Linked DNA regions of Homo sapiens. The protein of the gene in region 1 binds, or shares a complex with, the protein of each later gene. Links are inferred from orthologs where the notes say so. Each region holds a gene or a part of one and is shown on either strand. Other genes may lie near its edges.

Region 1 (3,908 bases):
GTGGAGGTTGCAGTGAGCCGAGATCGCACCACTACACTCCAGCTTGGGCGACAGAGCTACACTCTGTCTCAAAACAACAACAAAAACCCAAAAAATCTTCATATATAATACGCGTACGTACACGTAATAAAATGTGCCCAGTTTGTGTACTGTTGATGAATTTTAATAAATGTTTACACCTGTGTAAGCACTACCCTAACAGAACATTTCCTTTCCATCACCTTAAATATTTCCTGGGGACTTTCAGCAATCTATTTCTTCTCCCCCTCCTCCTGAATACAGCCTCAGGCAGCCAACCACTGATCAGCTATTATTATAGATTAGTTTTGCCTGTTCTAAAATTTCTTTTCTTTTTCTTTTTTTTTTTTTTGAGACAGAGTCTTGCTCTGTCACCCAGGCTGGAGTGCAATGGCGCGATCTTGGCTCACTGCAGCCTCTGCCTCCTGGGTTCAAGCGATTCTCGTGCCTCAGCCACCCAAGTAGCTGAGATTACAGGTGTGCGCCACCAGACCCAGCTAATATTTGTATTTTTAGTAGAGACGGGGTTTCACCATGTTGGCCAGGCTGGTCTCAAACGCCTTGACCTCAAGTGACCCACCCGTCTCGGCCTCCCAAAGTGCTGGGATTACAGGTATGAGCCACCGTGCCTGGCCTAGAATTTCTTATCAATGGAATCATACAATATGTATTAATTTTGTGGCCTTTGAGAAGTTTTTTAACTGTAAATTGGCTTTATAAATTAGCATACCTTTGAACTCACATAAAGGATGAAGGTTGAATTAGGGTAATTAATCTGTACCTCCCTGAATTGGTTTTGATTCCAAAAATATATACTAAATATAGTTTCCTGTTCCCTATTACAATAGAGTTCATATTTACTACAGTGAAACTATCATTTTCCACTCAGTTGAGACGTTACAAGACTTTAAGCCCCATGAAACATTCTATTTCGTGACCACTGTATACCCAGTGCCAACACTGTCTCACACATAGTAGTTGCTGAGTAAACATTTGTTGACTGAATGGATGTATTTCCCCTGAATTGCTTCTACATGTCTATGTTAGATGACTGGGGTGCTTTTATTTTTTTAGAGATAGGGCCTCACTTTGTCTCCCAGACTGGAGTGCAATGGCGCCATCATGGCCCACTGCAGCCTCCAACTCCTGGGCTCAAGTGATCCTCTTGTGTCAGCCTCCTGAGTAGTTGTGACTACAGGCGTGCGCCACCATGTCCAGCCAATTTTTGTACTTTTTGTAGAGACGGGGGGTCTCACTATATTGCCCAGGCTGGTCTTGAACTCCCGGCTCAAGCTATTCTCCCGCCTCAGCCTCCCAAAGTGCTGGGATTACAGGGATGAGCCACTGTGCCCAGTCGGGATGCTTTAATGTTAGAAACTTAATTACCTTGCGTTTTTAAAGGAATGTGTGAGAAGTGCCCTATTCTGCCTCAAGTGATGGCAGAGGGTGGAGATTGAGACTGGAGGAAGCCCTGTGCAGTACATATCTGTAAGTCATGAAATAGCATCATTTTCCTTGTCTGGTCATATTAAAACGGTGATTAAAAAATCAAGAAAATAAAATCCCACTAGCAGTGTGTCCGAGAATCTTTGTTTACCTCCTCCCTATTGTTATGTCATGACATGGAGCCCAGCTGGGGAATTCTGAATACTAGGTTCTAAAACAGGATTTGTCATAAACGAATTGCTTGATCCTGGACATTCACCTCTAAAATAGACACCTGACCTCGGTGTGTGTGTGAGTGTGGTGAAAATCAAGTGGGAGGGAAAGTGAGCAAGCACCTGAACAAGGTACAGAGGCGCGCGAGGTAGTACCATAATACCATCTACACCAAGGTCTATACTATCCCTGGTCTCCGCTGCGTCCGCCGGGAGGAGGCGGTGCAAGAATGCGCACGCGCGGCCCCGGGCCCGGCCACACCCTCTTCCGCCGCTCCCGCCCAGCGACCTCGCTCCCGGGGCGACGCCCCGCGTGCGCCAGAGTCGCCGAGGTCGTCCCCGGCACCGGAAGTGACCCTGGCGGGTTTGTCTTCAAATTCTCGGCGAGCAGGAGCCGCGCCGGCAGGTGGTGTTGACGATTGAACTGGGCAGTACTGGGGCCGTGAGCGGAGAGCAAAGTGGGCTGGACTGGGTCAGGCCCTCCTTCCTCGCTGCCGGGATCTCCACTCCGCCAATCCCCTGTGCCTGGCGTTGGGCGGTTTCCCGAGGAGCTTGGGCCGCCGCAGGTGAGTTTTCACTCTGGCGGTGCTCTGGGGACCCCCGATTTTCCAGGGCCGGGCTGGTGAGGGACTCGGGGGGCCCACAGCGAGAACCCGCCGCGCAACCCTCCGTGAGCCTGCCTGTGCCTGAGCTGAGGTCCTAGGTCCTTGCTGTTGTCCACGATAACTTGGCTTAGGTGACAGTCCCCCTACCTGAGGAATCCTGTCAGGCGGAGGACTTTTCGGGGGCTCCTGTCGATCCCATCTTTTGATCTGTGTCGTTAGCGAAGTCACCAGCCGAGTTTTTAGTTCTTCGATTTTTCGACTGGTTCTCTCCAGAACCCGCTCACGCCCCCCACCCCGAAACCCTCACAGGTAAAAATCCCGATGGCCATGACATTGGGAGGCAACTTCTTTTCTTAAAATTTGTTAGGTTCGAGTGATATTGTTGGGGATGTTATTTCTTATTTATTCTAGAGCCCGGCGTCCTCTGGAAGGCCTGTGGGCCTTTTGGTTTAGAGTTGGTACCTTTTAGAAAAGTTTTCCCTCGAAACAGTTGTTTCATACAAATGTGATGACAAAGTTAGAGATAAACGTAGATCCTGAAGTGCCTTACAGTGGATAATCTCAAGCTCTTATTTAATCAAAAATAGTTTCCTGTTAAAACCGCGAAGGGCCGCTTTTATATTAGTTACTAACTTCCAACAGCACAGTGATGCTCTTTTCTCTTGAAAGCACTAATTTACGTCTTCCTCTTTGAAATTAGACCTCTAGTTATTGCTGAAAACATTCCCGATGTTTTAGAATGGGTGCAGTAGATCTTTGTCACGTAATCACAATGATAATCACCTTAGTAGATGTTAAGACAGATTCTTGAAATGTTTTTACGGGCTTAAATGTCTCAGTATAAAGCCCTATTTTCTTTTCCAAAAGAGCTGGGTTTTGTTCTTTTTTTTTTTTTTTTTTTTTTTTTTGAGACGGAGTCTTGCTCTGTCGCCAGGCTGGAGTGCAGTGGCGCAATCTTGGCTCACTGCAACCTCCGCCTCCCGGGTTCAAGCGATTCCCCTGCCTCAGCCTCCTTGAGTAGCTGTGACTACAGGCGCGCTCCACTACGCGCGGCAAATTTTTTGTATTTTAGTAGAGATGGGGTTTCACCATGTTGGCCAGGCTGGTCTCGATTTCCAGACATTGTGATCCGCCCGCCTAGGCCTCCCAAAGTGTTGGGATTACAGACGTGAGCCACTGCGCCCGGCCGGTTTTTGTTCTTATACCAAGAAATAGGAGCAAAACTTTGTTTTGTATTAACATTAACAAGTTGTGGCCTGTAAATACCTTTAAAAAAAAAAACACGCAGTAGTGATCAACTTCCCAACATTCCTAGACTATGAAAAGCTATATAAAGCTTCTTTATAGCGTTGGTTATTCAAGAAGCGTTTACATTTTTATAGGTAATAGGCATGCTATGTAGTCCACAAGGGATTCTCCACCTCATTTTGAAACTGGTATCAAGATGCTGACAAATATTGAGGATTAGAGAATCTTGTTGAATTCACTCTATTAACAACATTGTTGAATTTCTATTAACAATAGTTTGGGTTTTTTTAGCCACTTGACTGTTTAAAAAAGATAGTATTATCACATAAATATGGTCAGTGTTGATAACATGCCAAATAGCTTTTGCTTGTGGCGTTTA
Region 2 (3,908 bases), on another chromosome or scaffold:
CGGGAGGTGGGGGTTGTGGTGAGCCAAGATCGCACCATTGCACTATAGCCTGGGCAACAAGAGCGAAACTCCATCTCAAAAAAAAAAAAAAAAGTTAACACATTAGTTATTCTCTTCCTACTGTAAAGGATGAGAATTTAGCTCTCTCATGGCACCACTCCCAGCCCCATGGCTCGTGTTTCTCCTCCCACCCTCCCAGTAGCACCATTTCAATAGGTGGTGTTTATAATGTAAGGACGCATAAGTGTCATTTACCACTGACTATTTCTTTTTAATAACTTGGTTTCCCTGGAGTTAATAATAGTTCCTTTTTTTTTTTAATCTGTGTGTTTTCTATGTCCATATTACTCATTCATCCCCAAATTCTCTGCCAGAAGAGTAAAGCTCCTCCTGTTTCTTTGAAACCCATCCCATAATCCAGGCGCCTTTTCTCAGAGCCTCTCCTCTGGTCCTAGTGACCTGCAGCCCAGCTGTCATCCTGGGCCTCTGTGTCTCTTCTCTGGGGAATTCTCTCCATCTGTTGTTCCTGGTCCCACGCCGCAACCTTTCTTGGTTTTCTCCCTCTTTTTGATGGAGCACATTCTTTTGTAGCTTTCTGAGAAAATGTGCTGGGAAGGCATAGTTTTGGAGAACTTCCATGGCTGAAAATGACTTTCTGCTACCCCCATCATTTGCTTTTGTGTTTGTTTTATGAGTTTGAGTATAGAGTTCTATGTTGGCAATAAAATATCGCCCTCAGAATTTGGAAGGTGCAGCTTTTCTGCCTTTTAGGTTCTAGGTTGCTATTGGGAGGGGCCGGTGTTGTTCTGATCCCAGATCCTTCACAGGGGACTGGCTTCATTCCATGTTCTGTCTCTTCCTTCCTCTCTCTCTCTCTTTTCTTTCCTCTCTCTCTCTGTCTCTGCAGGCTTTTAGGGTCTTTGTCCCAGTGTTCTGGTGTGGTGAGCCTTGGGGTGGGTCTGCTTCCACCCTGTGCTAGGTCGTCACTGGTTTCATGCGGTTGTGGTCTGGAAACTCATGCCCTCAGTTCTGGGCTGAGCGGAGAGTCTCGCCCACTGCTCCTGTGCTGTGCCTCGGTGCCTTAGCAGGTGGTGCCAGCTCTACGGATTTTTCAAGAGAGGCTGGAAATCTGGAAATTCATGTGCCTTGGTGCCTTAGCAGGTGGTGCCAGCTCTACGGATTTTTCAAGAGAGGCTGGAAATCTGGAAATTCATGTGCCTTGGTGCCTTAGCAGGTGGTGCCAGCTCTACGGATTTTTCAAGAGAGGCTGGAAATCTGGAAATTCATGTGGAATCCACCCATTTAAAAATGTTGACAGCTCATTCAACATTTGTTTTAGAACACCATGCAGGCCAGCACTGTGAGGTCCAAATAAGACCCGTTTGCCTGATGCTTTTCTTTTCTTTTCTTTTTTTGAGACAGTGTCACTCTGTCACCCAGGCTGGAGTGCAGTGGTGTAATCTCAGCTCACTGCAACCTCTGTCTCCCAGGTTTAAGCGATTCTCCTGCCTCAGCCTCCTGAGTAGCTGAGACTACAGGCACGGACCACCATGTCCCGCTAATTTTTGTATTTTTAGTAGAGACGGGGTTTCTCCATGTTGGCCAGGCTGGTCTTGAACTCCTGACCTCAGGTGATCCGCCCACTTCAGCCTCCCAAAGTGCTGGGATTACAGGAATAAGCCACCATGCCTGGCCTGCCTGATGCTTTTTGATAGCCCTTGTTGGATCATCCCGCGTGCCAGGCAGGAGGCCACCTACCTGAAGCCCTGGAGAGGAAGCAGCAACGTGGATTTTGCCGAGGCTGCTTTTTCCAGAAGAGAGCCCCTCTGGCCTGGCTGAGACTTCAAGATTCTTCTGGGCCTCTCCTTGGTTCATGCTCTATGTTGGCGGCAGGGCAGCAGCCATGAGCCACACATGCACAGTGGCAAGGTTCCCTTTGCTCAGGAACAGTGGGCTCTCTGTGTAGGTGGTACTCAATAAAGATGCACGCAGCCTCTTCAGTGATGCTTGCCTACTCAGTGATGGTCAGTTTAAGAACAAAAGAGCCCCAGGACCTCTTTGATAACAAACAGGACTGCAGGCTTTGCGTCTCGGCACGTGATCGCACTGCCTGGCCACACCAGGGCATGCTGTGCTTGGTGTCGCTGAACTCAAGCGGGCCAGGGAGGAGTGAGTCCAGGATGGCTGGGCTCTCATGGAGAAGATGGGAAGGCTCAGGCAGAAGGTGGGCAGCTCCCTGGACCTGAATCCCAGCGCGTGGGCACCAGCCATTCAGTATTCACCGAAGAACAAGAGACAGAAGGGAGAAGCCGAGGGCGCCGTGCCCCCTGTCCAGGCTTTCTCATCCACAATTGTTTTGCTCACAGGGGAAATGTGAGGAATTCCTTGAGGTGGCTGAGAAATGAAAACTGAAGATTGCTGGATTCCTGGGCCCTGGACGGCCAGGGCTGGCTGCTCCACAAGGAACTCATTACGAACTCACGGCCCAGACTCCATCCTCAGAGAACCCGATTCAGTACTGGGGTGGGCCCAGGATCTGGATTTTAATAAGCTTCCAGGTGATTCCGATGGACAGCCAGGTTGACAGATGGGCAAACAGAGGCCCAGGGAGAGCACCGAGCTTAGGAAAACCCCAGTAGCTGCAGGTAGCAGAGCCTGGGACTTGAATCCCGGTGTCAGGACTCCCATCCCAGTGTTGTCTGTTCTGCCATTGGATGGAAGAGAAACTTGCCATCAGCACAGCAGGTAGAGCTAAGACCTCCGGCCCCCCTCCACACCCCCTCGCCAGAGTGCAGGTGACAGTGACAGACAGGCAAATTGAGGCCCCAGGTGTGGAAAGGTTCCAAAGAGAGCTGCTCTGCGGGCATGGTGGCTCACACCTGTAATCTCAGCACTTTGGGAGGCCAAGGCAGGAAGATCACTTGAGGCCATGAGTTTAAGACTAACCTGGGCAACAAAAGGAGACCCCATCTCTATTTTTTTAAAAAAAAAAAAAAAAAGGAGAGAGAGAGAGCTGCCTCATATCGGTTGCCTTGAAAGGCCACCCATCACTGGAGGGTTCAGATGTAGGCTGAGGAGGTGCTCAGCTGGGAGGCGTTGGGGGTTCCTGTGTGGGGCAGACAGACCCCGGAAGCCCCTCCACTCTGCAGTTCCTAGATCCCATGATTGAATGTAGGCATCAGAGGCCTTCGTGGGACAGAAGAGCAAGGGCAGGAGTCAAGCCGGAAGAATGTGGTCCTGCCTGCTTTCCACAGCGCAGCCAGAGGGCAAGGGTAGCTCAGCGCAGGGGATCCCACGGGATCTCACAGGAGGGCGGCCGGTGCTTCATGCAGCCAGCCCACACAGGGTGGGACTCCGCCACATCCTCTCTGGGCAGGGCAGGATTTTGGAAGCCTTGCTGTGGGATCCAAGCTGAGTGGGCTGGGAGCGGGTGTGGACTGGAGCAAGAGCCAGCGTGGCCTCCTTGGCCAGGAGGCAATGCCCAGCCCCCAGCAGCACCTGATAGCTACACGGAGCAAGGAGTGACAGCTGCAGAGATTCTGGTGCAGGTGAATTGGATATGCATTCGACAGACTCCAGAGGGATGTGAAAGTATCCAGACCCAGCTCCAGCGCCAGACAGGGCCAGCTGCAGAGGGGCACTGAGGCCTGGGGAGGAGGAGAGAAGGCCCAGCTTGCGGGACAGCCAAGAGCAGAAGGCAGGCCTTGTGCAGGAAGAAATGTGAATGGGACTAATTAAGACTGGCATTTATTGAGCACTTACCATGTGCAGAGCCCGTGCTAAGCACTTTATGTATGTTTACTCCATTCTGTGACCCAACATGAGGCCCAAAGACAGTAAGTGATTGGCCAGGGTCACACCACCAGTGAGGAGCGGAGCCAAGGCTGATCCCAGTATTGTCTGATGCC

The links.
Region 2: the proteins of KATNA1 (region 1) and KATNB1 are in contact, whole or in part, in a crystal structure (PDB 5OW5), measured with the Mus musculus proteins. The link is inferred for Homo sapiens from one-to-one orthologs. Residues at the interface, in NP_035965.2 of Mus musculus: Leu5, Gln6, Ile8, Val9, Val12, Arg16, Ala19, Leu20, Leu21, Gly22, Tyr24, Tyr31, Tyr41, Leu50, Lys53, Trp54, Gln56, Val57, Glu60, Ile61, Val63, Glu64, Gln67, Val68, Asp70, Ile71, Thr74, Leu75, Ser77, Phe78; in NP_083081.2 of Mus musculus: Leu485, Val486, Asp487, Glu488, Ala490, Met491, Gln493, Ile494, Arg495, Gly497, His498, Met501, Phe502, Val504, Leu505, Thr506, Arg508, His509, Leu512, Asp513, Val515, Arg516, Trp519, Thr521, Asp542, Leu543, Ile546, Gln549, Lys550, Leu553.

What each region holds. Positions count from the first base shown.
Region 1 is NC_000006.12:149,646,803-149,650,710, reverse strand, and holds the start of KATNA1 (katanin p60 ATPase-containing subunit A1), read left to right. Parts: upstream 1-1,996; 5' UTR 1,997-2,242; intron 2,243-2,467; exon of another isoform or gene 2,468-2,590; intron 2,591-3,908. UniProt on the Homo sapiens protein: Catalytic subunit of a complex which severs microtubules in an ATP-dependent manner. Microtubule severing may promote rapid reorganization of cellular microtubule arrays and the release of microtubules from the centrosome following nucleation.
Region 2 is NC_000016.10:57,745,487-57,749,394, forward strand, and holds part of KATNB1 (katanin p80 WD40 repeat-containing subunit B1), read left to right. Parts: intron 1-3,908.